Linked DNA regions of Homo sapiens. The protein of the gene in region 1 interacts with the protein of each later gene in a biochemical or structural test. Each region holds a gene or a part of one and is shown on either strand. Other genes may lie near its edges.

Evidence for each region. The genes of interacting proteins can lie anywhere in the genome.
Region 2: the proteins of PA2G4 (region 1) and NPM1 form a complex in vitro, tested with the Homo sapiens proteins (one study listed by BioGRID).
Region 3: the proteins of PA2G4 (region 1) and EIF2AK2 form a complex in vitro, tested with the Homo sapiens proteins (one study listed by BioGRID).
Region 4: of the proteins of PA2G4 (region 1) and PRKN, one has a biochemical effect on the other in vitro, tested with the Homo sapiens proteins (one study listed by BioGRID).

Annotation. Positions count from the first base shown.
Region 1 is NC_000012.12:56,110,985-56,114,410, reverse strand, and holds the end of PA2G4 (proliferation-associated protein 2G4), read right to left. Parts: coding exon 3,353-3,426; intron 3,230-3,352; coding exon 3,102-3,229; intron 2,936-3,101; coding exon 2,882-2,935; intron 1,589-2,881; coding exon 1,523-1,588; 3' UTR 501-1,522; downstream 1-500. UniProt on the Homo sapiens protein: May play a role in a ERBB3-regulated signal transduction pathway. Seems be involved in growth regulation. Acts a corepressor of the androgen receptor (AR) and is regulated by the ERBB3 ligand neuregulin-1/heregulin (HRG).
Region 2 is NC_000005.10:171,401,349-171,404,848, forward strand, and holds part of NPM1 (nucleophosmin), read left to right. Parts: intron 1-3,500. UniProt on the Homo sapiens protein: Involved in diverse cellular processes such as ribosome biogenesis, centrosome duplication, protein chaperoning, histone assembly, cell proliferation, and regulation of tumor suppressors p53/TP53 and ARF.
Region 3 is NC_000002.12:37,098,710-37,101,845, reverse strand, and holds the end of EIF2AK2 (interferon-induced, double-stranded RNA-activated protein kinase), read left to right. Parts: 3' UTR 1-2,636; downstream 2,637-3,136.
Region 4 is NC_000006.12:161,349,842-161,352,766, reverse strand, and holds part of PRKN (E3 ubiquitin-protein ligase parkin), read left to right. Parts: intron 1-2,555; coding exon 2,556-2,668; 3' UTR 2,669-2,925. UniProt on the Homo sapiens protein: Functions within a multiprotein E3 ubiquitin ligase complex, catalyzing the covalent attachment of ubiquitin moieties onto substrate proteins. Substrates include SYT11 and VDAC1.

The sequences.
Region 1 (3,426 bases):
GAGAGAGATGAACAGGCAAAACACAGAGGATTTTTAGGGCACTAAAACTACTCTATTTTAATGGTAGATATACATCATTACACATTTGACCTGTGTTCAGTTCTGTTCACTTGTAGTATCTCTAGTTTAGCAATTCCTGACATGTAGTAAGATAAACTAATTACCCATCTGACCTTAGTCTGGCCCTGAAAACTAGTGTACCATTCTTCCTGGCTTCTTGAATTCAAGATAAACACTTGCAGTACTGTTTTTGCAGTAGACATTGTGTCCTAGCCCCAAACAAATCTTAGCAGTGAGGACTGTTTCTACTTAGAAAATTACACCACCCAACTCCAGCAGATTACTATATCATCAAAGATTCTAAGATTTGTGTCTTCTGCAAGTCAAGACATTCCTCGTTTTGGGAAGGTAGAGCATGGCACTGTGGAGGAACAGTTCCAATACCACTTCAACTGACATTCTCCCCACCTCCATCAAACAAGAGCAGCATACAAAGCACATCATTATGAGCAAATCCAAATTTATTTTAATGTCATGTCATTTTCAATGTGTTTAAAAACCTCATAAGTTAGTGGGAGCCCTAGTTTCCTGGGACAGCATGCCAGAGGTACTGAAATTTGTCACCTTTCTCTACAAACCCCCAGCAATCCAATCCAAGTCCATAGCTTCAGAAAGCCAGGAGTTGTGTCTTCAGTCAGTCTACGCCTCTGGTTCTTGGTTTTTCTTTCATGGGAGGGAGATCACAATATTTCAAACAGGGAACAAAACCAGTTGAGCTTCCAGCTCAGGTCTGTGTAAGATGGAGCGAGGAAAGACCCCACTGACTCCAGAGAAAAAGGGTAAGGTTGAGATGGATTATTTCTTTACAGCTTTGTGAAAATGGAAGAAAAAAGATTTACAAATGAGGATCCATTTCATAGATGAGAATCTCTTCATAAATGAAGGCTCCAGCTCCTAAAATGGGAGGGGCCTGACTGGACAGCCTGAATCAGATGAGGAATCGGCCACACTGAATAAAAACAATCTGAAAAATAATCCTCTTAATTTTGAAGCCAGATAAAATATTTGGGGAGAATGGAAAAAAGAGGAAAAAGCCCCAAACAGATGGAAAAAATGCTGACATCAGAGTGGTATAAAAAAATTCGGCTGAGTTTTCAGTGGTGGTGGCTAATTTAGCCCTGTTCTGTAGTGGGGCACAAACCTTGACCAAGCAGAGAGTAGTAGAAAAGGCTAGAAAGAGGGGCTTGAAGACGATGAATTTTGACTCCTGATTTTATTATTCAATTTCTTTTTTTCATTTAAAGTAGTCTTCCGTGGTTGGGAAGCCTCACCTCCCAAGACCAGAGTCAGTTGGAGCTGGTTGTTGTTGGAAGGGAGTGGGTTGGGGAACTGGGGTGGGGGCAGGGAGATCCCCCCGCTCTGCTGGCGGTCCTAGGTGGAGAAGAACTGCACTTCACAGAGTCTGGGGTTTGGTGGGAAGGGGATGAGGCAGGAGCAGCAAGCTGGGGAGATGGGACCCACCTCAGTCCCCAGCTTCATTTTCTTCTAATGTTTCCCCACTGGTGGCATTCTCTGCAGTCTTGGAGGCCTATATGCAAGAAAAGGAGAGGGAGAAGACCTGTCAGTTTCTAACTACTTGGGGATGTCTGGGACCAGAGATAAAAGTATTTTTTTTTCTGAGACAGTCTCACTCTGTTTTCCAGGCTGGAGTGCAGTGGTACCACTTCCCTGGGCTCAGGTGATCCTCTCACCTCAGCCTCCCAGGTAGCTGGGACTATAGGCATATGCCACCATGTACAACTTTTTTGTATTTTTTGTAGAGATGAGGTTTCACCATGTTGCCCGGGCTGATCTTGAACTCCTGGGCTCAAGTGATGCTCCTGCCTAGGCCTCCCAAACTGTTGGGATTATATGTGTGAACCACCACACCCAGCCATAAAGTTATCTCAATCCTCTGGGTCACAGCTGAAATAAAGACATACAGGTCTCTGACTTACAATGGTCAACTTGTGATTTTTCAACTTCACAATGGCGTGAAAGCAATATGGATATTTCGATACATGATAATTTGTTCAATAAATGTTTTGAGCACATTCAAGGTAGGCCAGGCTAAGCTATGAGGTTCATGGTAGGTTAAGGTACATCAAATCCATTTTGAGCCAGGCATGGTGGTGGCTACTCAGCAGGTCAAGGCAGGACAATCACTTGAACCCAGGAGGAGTTTGAGGATACAGTGAGCTATGATCATGCCTCTACACGTCAGCCTGGGTGACACAGTGAGATCATCTCTTTTTTGGAGACAGAGTTTCGCTCTTGTTGCGCAGGCCGGAGCGCAATGGTGCGATCTCGGCCCACTGCAACCTCTGCCTCCCAGATTCAAACAATTCTCCTGCCTTAGCCTCCCGAGTAGCTGGGATTATAAGCGTGTGCCACCACACCCAGCTAATTTTGTATTTTTAGTAGAGACGGGGTTTCTCTCTGTGTTGGTCAGGCTGATCTCAAACTCCTGACCTCAGGTGATCCATCCGCCTTAGCCTCCCAAAGTGCTGGGATTACAGGCATGAGCCACTGTGCCCGGCCAAAGCAAGGCTGGGCATGGCAGCTCATGCCTGTAATCCCAACAGTTTGGGAGGCTGAGGTGGAAGGACTGTTCAAGGCCAGGAGTTTGAGACTCTGTCTCTTAAAATATATATATATATATTTTAAAATCCATTTTGACTTACAGTATTTTCAATTTATGATGGGTTTACTGGGACAAAGTTCTATCATATAAGTTGAGGAGCATCTGTATAAAAATCCGTATTTCACTACAACTTAACACAGTGGGAGAAAGAGGGATCAGGTTCACCCTGCCAGAGAGGAATGATCGTTAATAACACACCTTCTTTTTTTTCTTTTTCTGGGTTTTTCGACTTGCAGAACTCTGGAGGAGGGCCTGGAAAACAGGAAGAAGGGAAAAAAATTTTGAGAAATGTGGAGGAAATTAAAAATAAAGGGTTACTTTCAGTACTGCAGCTCTTTTCAGGACTTTGCTGGCATTTAGCCCTCACTCCCAAGCAGGATACCATGTACATACTCACCACCTTCTATTCCATACTAACCTTTAGCTCTGCATCCTGGACCTCCATCTCAGACTTGTAGAGGTCAGGCTCGAAGGGACCACTGGTTATCCGCATGGGGCCATTGGGCATGAGCAGAACTGTAAATTTAAACTGGGCAACAAATTCACCTATGGCAAAAATGAAGATGTGTTTTGATAAAAAGTTCCTTTGTCATACTTAGCTCTTCTGAACTTACAGGAAGGATATCTTATAATCAGGGAATCCAAAGTGAAGCTCTTTTTGGAACTCACCCTCCTTCTCATAGAGAACATTAAATGGTTGCAGCAGTTCATGTTTGGCGCACTCCACCACACCCATCCGAGCC
Region 2 (3,500 bases), on another chromosome or scaffold:
TCCAAAAAAAAAAATCAGCTTGTTGTGTGTTGTAGGTACACACACACACACAAACATACTAAATGTAAGGTGGTGGGGCGGGGGGAGCCAATAGACTTTTTTGAAAGAGATGGACCCTCACTTTGTCACTCAGTCTGGGTTAGAGTTGCGTGATCTCGGCTTACTGCAACCTTCACTTCCCGGGTTCAAGCGATTCTCCTGCCTCAGCTTCCCAAGTAGCTGGGACTACATGCGCGTGCCACCAGGCCCAGCGTATTTTTGTATTTTTGAGTAGAGATGGGGTTTCACTCTATATGTTGGCCAGGCTGGTCTCAAACCCCTGACTGCAGGTGATCCGCCCTCCTGGGCCTCTCAAAGTGTGTGAGCCACCACGCCTGGCCTGAATTTTTTGTGATTGTGAAGTCAATAGTTGTTTCCTGTAAGGAATCTTTGTTGAAAGGTATGTCTGCATAGAGTAGAAGTTCTCAACCTTGGCTGCATGTTAGCTTGAAGTAGAACATTTGGGCCTAGACAGGGTGTATTGATCTCATTCCTGACCCTACCCACTTCCCTGCAGAAAATGGAATTTAAAGGAAAAAAAGTTTAAAGGAACCCCAGTACTTGTGCTCTACTTATGGAGATTGTCATAAAAATGGTCTGGGGTGGGCGCCAGGCATCAGACTACAGTGACTTTCTTGCTTTATTCTTAGGGATTTTCTGATTTCCTTTTTTTTTTTTTTTTAACCTGATGAAATAGTTTATTTACAATTTAAACGAATAAATTTCATATTCTACAACACATATAATCTATTGACTAAATGTAACTAATGATGAACCTCCATACAAACAACCCCACTAAAAAGTGGGCAAAGGACATAAACAGACACTTTTCAAAAGACATACAAGTGGCCAAAAAGCATATGAAAAACAGCTCAATATCACTGATTAGAGAAATGCAAATCGAAACCACAATGAGATACCATCTCACACCAGTCAGAATAGCTATTATTAAAAACTCAAAAAACAACAGCTGCTGGCAAGGTTGCAGAAAAAAGGGAATGCTTACACACTCTTGGTGGGAGTGTAAATTAGTTCAACCATTGTGGAAAGCAGAGTGGCGATTCCTCAAAGAGCTAAAAACAGAACTACCATTTGACCCAGCAATCCCATTACATTCCCAAAGGAATATAAATCATTCTACCATAAAGATACATGCACACAAATATTCACTGCAGCACTATTCACAATAGCAAAGACATGGAATCAACCTAATACCTGATATGGTCTGGCTTTGTGTCCCCACCCACATCTCATCTCAAATTGTAATCCCCACGTGTTGGAAGAGGGGCCTGGTGGGAGGTAATTGGATCATGGGGTAGATTTCCCTCTTGCTGTTCTGTTGATAGTGAATTCTCATGAGATCTGGTTGTTTGAAAGTGTGTAGCACCTCCCCCTTTGTGCTCTCTCTCTTCTGCTGCCATGTAAGATGTGCCTTGCTTCCCCTTTGCCTTCTGCCATGATTGTAAATTTCCTGTGGCCTCCTAGCCATGCTTCCTATACAGCCTACAGCACTGTAAGTCAATTAAACCTCTTTTCTTCATAAATTACCCAATCTCAGGTAGTTCTTTTTTTTTTTTTTCATTTTATTTATTTATTTATTTATTTTTTATTTTTATTTTTTTTTTAATTTATTTTTTTATTGATAATTCTTGGGTGTTTCTCACAGAGGGGGATTTGGCAGGGTCATGGGACAATAGTGGAGGGAAGGTCAGCAGATAAACAAGTGAACAAAGGTCTCTGGTTTTCCTAGGCAGAGGACCCTGCGGCCTTCCGCAGTGTTTGTGTACCTGATTACTTGAGATTAGGGATTGGTGATGACTCTTAACGAGCATGCTGCCTTCAAGCATCTGTTTAACAAAGCACATCTTGCACCGCCCTTAATCCATTTAACCCTGAGTGGACACAGCACATGTTTCAGAGAGCACAGGGTTGGGGGTAAGGTCACAGATCAACAGGATCCCAAGGCAGAGGAATTTTTCTTAGTGCAGAACAAAATGAAAAGTCTCCCATGTCTACTTCTTTCTACACAGACACGGCAACCATCCGATTTCTCAATCTTTTCCCCACCTTTCCTGCCTTTCTATTCCACAAAGCTGCCATCGTCATCCTGGCCCGTTCTCAATGAGCTGTTGGGCACACCTCCCAGACGGGGTGGTGGCCGGGCAGAGGGGCTCCTCACTTCCCAGTAGGGGCGGCTGGGCAGAGGCGCCCCTCACCTCCCGGACGGGGCGGCTGGCCGGGCAGGGGGGCTGACCCCCCCCACCTCCCTCCCGGACGGGGCGGCTGGCCAGGCGGGGGGCTGACCCCCCCACCTCCCTCCCGGACAGGGCGGCCGGCCGGGCGGGGGGCTGACCCCCCCACCTCCCTCCCGGACGGGGCGGCTGGCCGGGCAGAGGGGCTCCTCACTTCCCAGTAGGGGCGGCCGGGCAGAGGCGCCCCTCACCTCCCAGACGGGGCGGCTGGCCGGGCGGAGGGCTGACCCCCCCACCTCCCTCCCGGACGGGGCGGCCGGCCAGGCGGGGGGCTTACCCCCCCACCTCCCTCCCGGACGGGGCGGCTGGCCGGGTGGGGGGGCTGACCCCCCCATCTCCCGGACGGGGTGGCTGGCCGGGCTGAGGGGCTCCTCACTTCCCAGTAGGGGCGGCCGGGCAGAGGCAACCCTCACCTCCCGGACGGGGCGGCTGGCCGGGCGGGGGGCTGACCCCCCCACCTCCCTCCCGGACGGCACGGCTGGCCAGGTGGGGGGCTGACCCCCCCACCTCCCTCCCGGATGGCACGGCTGGCCGGTCGGGGGGGCTGACCCCCCACCTCCCTCCCAGATAGGGCGGCTGGCCGGGCGGGGGGTTGACCCCCCCCCACCTCCCTCCCGGACGGGGTGGCTGCTGGGCGGAGATGCTCCTCACTTCCCAGATGGGGTGGCTGCCGGGCGGAGAGGCTCCTCACTTCTCAGACGGGGCAGCTGCCGGGCGGAGGGGCTCCTCACTTCTCAGACGGGGTGGTTGCCAGGCAGAGGGTCTCCTCACTTCTCAGACGGGGCGGCCAGGCAGAGACGCTCCTCACCTCCCAGACGGGGTCTCGGCCGGGCAGAGGCGCTCCTCACATCCCAGATGGGGCGGCGGGGCAGAGGCGCTCCCCACATCTCAGACGATGGGCGGCCGGGCAGAGACGCTCCTCACTTCCTAGATGTGATGGCGGCTGGGAAGAGGCGCTCCTCACTTCCTAGATGGGATGGCGGCCGGGCGGAGACGCTCCTCACTTTCCAGACTGGGCAGCCAGGCAGAGGGGCTCCTCACATTCCAGACGATGGGCGGCCAGGCAGAGACACTCCTCACTTCCCAGACGGGGTGGCGGCCGGGCAGAGGCTGCAATCTCGGCACTTTGGGAGGCCAAGGCAGGCGGCTGGGAGGTGTAGGTTGTAGTGAGCCGAGATCACGCCACTGCACTCCAGCCTGGGCACCATT
Region 3 (3,136 bases), on another chromosome or scaffold:
TGACAAGATTTCCTTAATTATCATATAATAGTCTGTATTGTTTCTATCTCAAAAATACAGTTTTCTTGGTTGTTGAAATCTAGATCCAACATTGCATTTGGTTGATGTGTCTCCTTTACTCTGTAAAATTTACCCCTGCGTTTTAGTTCTTTTCGGCTTTTATTTGTCCTGTGGAATTTCCTCCACTCAGGATTTGACTGAGAGTATCCCCAGAGTGTCCAGTTAGACCTAGAAGCTGGATTTGATCCTGGTTCATTTATTTTCCCCCAAGAATACTCCATAGGTGATGCTATACACTTTCTCTTACATCATTTCAGGAGGAACATGATGTCTGATTGTTCCACTTTCAGTGATTTTAATATTGATCAATGAGTTCTGGTGGTACCAACTACTACAAAGTTTCTCATCAATCTTTCACCTGATGGTTTTAGCAGCTATTGATAATTGTTGCCTGGATCCATTATTTCATTTCAGGGGTTGTAAAATAGTGATTTTCTGGTTCTATCAAACCTCTTGCATTTATCATCTATGATTCTTCTTTAAGGAACTTTCTCTAAATCTGAATGGGAAAGATGCGATAAATATTTATCAAATTTTAGAGTGAGTTAGTGCCCTAGCAACCTCCACAGTTGACAAATGAGTATTTCTTTAAAGCAAGGTATGGCCCAACCAATACTTTGAAACTAGCATGTTTAGAATAGAGCAGGAGGAAACTATATTTGAAAGGTCAGAAGTGGAAAGACTAAGAGGGCCTGAACAATAAGAGGACAGAACCAAGAGGAGTTGGCAACTAATTGGATGTGGGGATTAAGGAAAGGTAAGCATCAAAGATTACCTCCAAGTTTGTTAGAAGGTTAGTAGCAGGATTCTGATGCCATTCAAGTAAATACAAGTCTCAGTCAGATGAACCCCAAGAGCCACATGTATTTGAGGGGTACTTTGTCTCACACTTTTACCTGTTACATGGTTTTCAGTAATTTAGAATTTAAGCCAGTAGTGGGGCGACTGTACATCTATCGACATGGTGAGGTAGAGCATGTTTGGGAGGAAAGACGTTGAATCCCATTTGGTGACAGTGAGCTTGAGGTGCTGCCAGAACACTGCACTGAAGATAGGAGGAGACTGTAGGAAATACAAGATAGGAAAGGTCTCCACTGAAATGTTAACTCTTTCTCTCTAAACGGCCATCCAGGCCTCAATGTCTGCAGTTTCTGATCTGTGATTATGACTTATCCAAATCTTACATTTCTTAAAAATAGTCATAGATGAAGGGAATCACAGTTGATAGTTATATGGTGACATTATTGGCTTAAATTCTAAATAACTAGAAACTGTATAATAGGCAAAACTGTGAGGCAAATAAAATGCTTCTCAAATCTGTGTGGCTCTTATGGGGTTAATTTGATTTGGACCTGTATTAATTTCTTATGGCTGCTATAACTAACAAATTACCACAAACTTGGTGGTTTAAAACAACACACATTTATTCTCTTTCTGTTCTGGAGGCCAGAAGTCTAAAATGAGATTCACTGGGCTGCAGTTCACTGGGCAAGGCCATGCTCCTCTGGAGGCTTCCATGATGCATCCCATATTCAGTGTTTCCCGAGTAAGCCCCACCCATGCAGGTCTGCAGTTTTACCTCAACAGGCTTTTGCACTCAGTGGCTCTCTCCTGTGGTTTCTATCTGAAATTCTCTTCATTTTTTTTTTAATAACTGCTTTATTGAGATATAATTCACATGCCATACAATTCACCTATACAGTATACAATTCAGTAGTGTTTACTATATTCAGAGTTGTGCAACTATCATTTTTCTCACCCCCAAAAGAAACCCTATGCCCGTTAGTATTCACTCTGTTTTCTCACAACTCTAGGTAACCACTAATCTACTCTCCATCTCTATAGATTTGCCCATGCTAGACATTTCATATAAATGGAATCATACATGTGGTCTTTTTCACTGAGTATATTTTCAAGGTGCATCCCAGCTGTGGCATGAATCAGCATCTCATTCCTTTTTATTGCCAAATAATATTCTATCATATGGATATGTCGCATTTTATGTATCCATTCATCAGCTGATGGACATTTGGGTTGTTTGTACTTTTTGGCTACCATGAATAATGCTACTATGAACTTTTGTGTACAAATCTTATGTGGACTTGTTTTCATTTCTCTTGGATGTATATTCCTAGGAGAATGGCTGGATTATACAGTAACTCTTTCCTCATAACTTTGCATATCAAAATTATATCCATCTTTCAGAACCCAAATTCAGTGTTATTTCCAAAGTGTTCCAACATCTCCCACTCAAAATGAATCTTCTCCCTAGTACTCCCATTGTTTAGTACCTAATTGTTCTTACCAGTTTGTCTTAGAGCTCAGTCATTCCTACACAGCACTTTTCTTCATTATACTGCTAATTTCATTACACTGTAAGAGTGGGGACAAGCTGTTCTTCTTGTATACCAGAAAGTAGTGAGTGCACTGCTGTGAAGAAAGCAGGAACTCAAAAGTTAAGAATTTTGAATGAGCCTATAAAATGTGTCTAATAAATAATAATGTTCATTTTCAAATCTCAACAATTAAATGTTTAACAAATAACACTTGAAATAAATGTTTATTAGAAAAACCAATTTGGTATGTTAAAGTATTTATTTTGAATTTCAGAAACTACAGAATTCTGGATTTTTAATTAAGAAAATTAGACATTTTAGAATTTCTAGATAGGACTTTGAAAATAAACATGGCACAATATACACAAAAGTAAATGACAACATGACATTAAATTTTACATTGTTTTGCAGTTTCAAATTTCGTATTAATGTTCTACAACAAATTTTAAAATTCTTTTCAGTGTTTTGCTTCCCTTGGTGTTCATTATTGCCTATTTATAAAGTCATAAAAGGCCTAAAAATAACTTGTTACTCATATTGAAAGTCTGATTTTTTTTTTATTCCCTTAAGATGGAGGTCTCTCACTATGTTGCCCAGGCTGGTTTCAAACTTCTGGGCTCAAAGGATTCCCCATCTCAGCCCCCTGAGTAGCTGGGACCAAAGGCATGCACCACTGCACCCGGCTGAAAGCCTGTATTTTTATCTTTCGATGGACAACAGAGGGATATCTCCCACTCTCT
Region 4 (2,925 bases), on another chromosome or scaffold:
ATATATATATACACACACACACACACACACACACACACACTCTTCATACATATTTGTGTTTATATATGCTTATATATATTAAATATCACAATAGGAAAGTTTCTTACCCTTTCATTTAGAATTGCTTTAATAGTTCATTAAGTTTTAATGTATTGCTCAATAATTTTGATTGAATATATTTTACGATACATGATATAATAATGATATATTTATGATATGATAAAATATTTATGATATTTTAGAGAAACAAGTGGTTTTATAATGTCACACCATATAACATATTATTTACATCATAAATATACAACCATGCAATATGTGCTGAAAATGGCACAAACCTAAGTGGAAAGTATGAAGATAAAAGTGTTGTAAGTTTTCTCCTTTATTTTCCACAGATCTGTAATTTATGATCTTTAAAACAAGCCAGAAAGGATTAGGAAAACAGGAGATTTTGCATGTCGGCAAGTTATCTTAAAACAAATGCCTATTCCTATATATTCATAAATATTTTAAATTAGTGAAAGTTCTCATGCCAGGTTTCTAATAATAAAAGTGAGACAGCACCGAACCAATTACTTGGAAAATTTGGCAGGAAAAATCAATTAACAAGATAATTGGTAAGAGTGAGTAATGGAGCACCTTCAACGCTAGGTGGGATTCAAGCAAAGAAACTGCGTTTGCCGGGGTTTTCCAGGAAATTTGGACAGAAACAGTTCTCTGTACATCCTCATACAAATCACTTCCTCCTCCCTTCAGTTCCCCCACAGCGACTGAAGCAGGGCTGTGTGCACTCCAGAAACTCATGGAGTCTATGTTTAACAAGTGAGGGAGGTGAATAATTCCAAAATAAGTTCCAAGATAAGGGACTTTTCCTCTTATGCTGAAAATAACCTGTTCTGTGAATGACAGGACATTGGAATCACACAGACCTTGGTGAGATCATTGTCTTCACCATTTAAAAGTGCTTCACCTTGGGGAAATTCTATAGCAGAGTGATGCTCTTATCTCAAAGTGCTTTGGGAAGCAAATGAGATAATATACATAGAACACCTAGCATTATTAATTACTTCCTTTCTATCCCTCTCATCTTAATTAAAATTTTGGATAGCATTAAGGAACATATTCCCTATTAAAAATAATATGCTGGCTGGGTGCGGTAGCTCACGCCTGTAATCCCAGCACTTTGGGAGGCCGAGGCGGGAGGATGACTTGAGGTCAGGAGTTTGAGACCAGCCTGGCCAACATGGCAAAACCCTGTCTCTACGAAAAATTCAAAAATTAGCTGGGCATGTTGGTGGGCGCCTGTAATCCCAGCTACTCGGGAGGCTGAGGCCAGAGAATCACTTGAACCTGGGAGGTGGGGGTTGCAGTGAGCCAAGATCTCGCCACTGCACTCCAGCCTGGACGACAAGAGCAAAACTCCATCTCAAAAAAAAAAATAGAAATAATAATAATTACAATATGCTATCCCAGTTCCTGTTTTATGAATTTGGCCAAGCCAAGTAAGTGGCACTATAGAAAGAGCAAAAATAAATCAAAATATATTTAAATTATTATACATTATATTAGGTTATATCATCAAATTTTATCAATATATTTAAATATAAATATATTTATATATATTTTAAATATAAATATATAAAAATATATTTATATATATTTTAAATATAAATATATAAAAATATATTTATATATATTTTAAATATAAATATATAAAATATATTTATATATATTTTAAATATAAATATATAAAATATATTTATATATATTTTAAATATAAATATATAAAATATATTTATATATATTTTAAATATAAATATATAAAATATATTTATATATATTTTAAATATAAATATATAAAATATATTTATATATATTTTAAATATAAATATATAAAAATATATATATTTTAAATATAAATATATAAAAATATATATATTTTAAATATAAATATATAAAAATATATATATTTTAAATATAAATATATAAAAATATATATATTTTAAATATAAATATATAAAAATATATATATTTTAAATATAAATATATAAAAATATATATATTTTAAATATAAATATATAAAAATATATATATTTTAAATATAAATATATAAAAATATATATATTTTAAATATAAATATATAAAAATATATATATTTTAAATATAAATATATAAAAATATATTTATATATTTTAAATATAAATATATTAATATTTGAATATATTTAAATGAGGAATTGACCCCTATCTATGAAACATGAAGTGTTTGTCTCTAAATCCCCTTTCAGGAGAATAAAGTCAGATTTACAAATAAAATTTGTTCCCGACAAAAGTGACATGCTTCAATTTCATTCATTTCTTAATGAATATCATCACTTTAGAGCTGCCCTATTGTGCTTTATGAAGTTTTTCCCCTCAGTTAAGTTTCTCTCTGCCCTTGTATTGCTTGTGATTATTCGCTCAGAAAGTGATGTCTAGGCTAGCGTGCTGGTTTGGGAATGCGTGTTTTCCAGGTACTTGCTGCGAACCCACCACACCTTTGTTTTCTGCCCCCAACAGGAGGCTGCATGCACATGAAGTGTCCGCAGCCCCAGTGCAGGCTCGAGTGGTGCTGGAACTGTGGCTGCGAGTGGAACCGCGTCTGCATGGGGGACCACTGGTTCGACGTGTAGCCAGGGCGGCCGGGCGCCCCATCGCCACATCCTGGGGGAGCATACCCAGTGTCTACCTTCATTTTCTAATTCTCTTTTCAAACACACACACACACGCGCGCGCGCGCACACACACTCTTCAAGTTTTTTTCAAAGTCCAACTACAGCCAAATTGCAGAAGAAACTCCTGGATCCCTTTCACTATGTCCATGAAAAACAGCAGAGTAAAATTACAGAAGAAGCTCCTGAATCCCTTTCAGTTTGTCCACACAAGACAG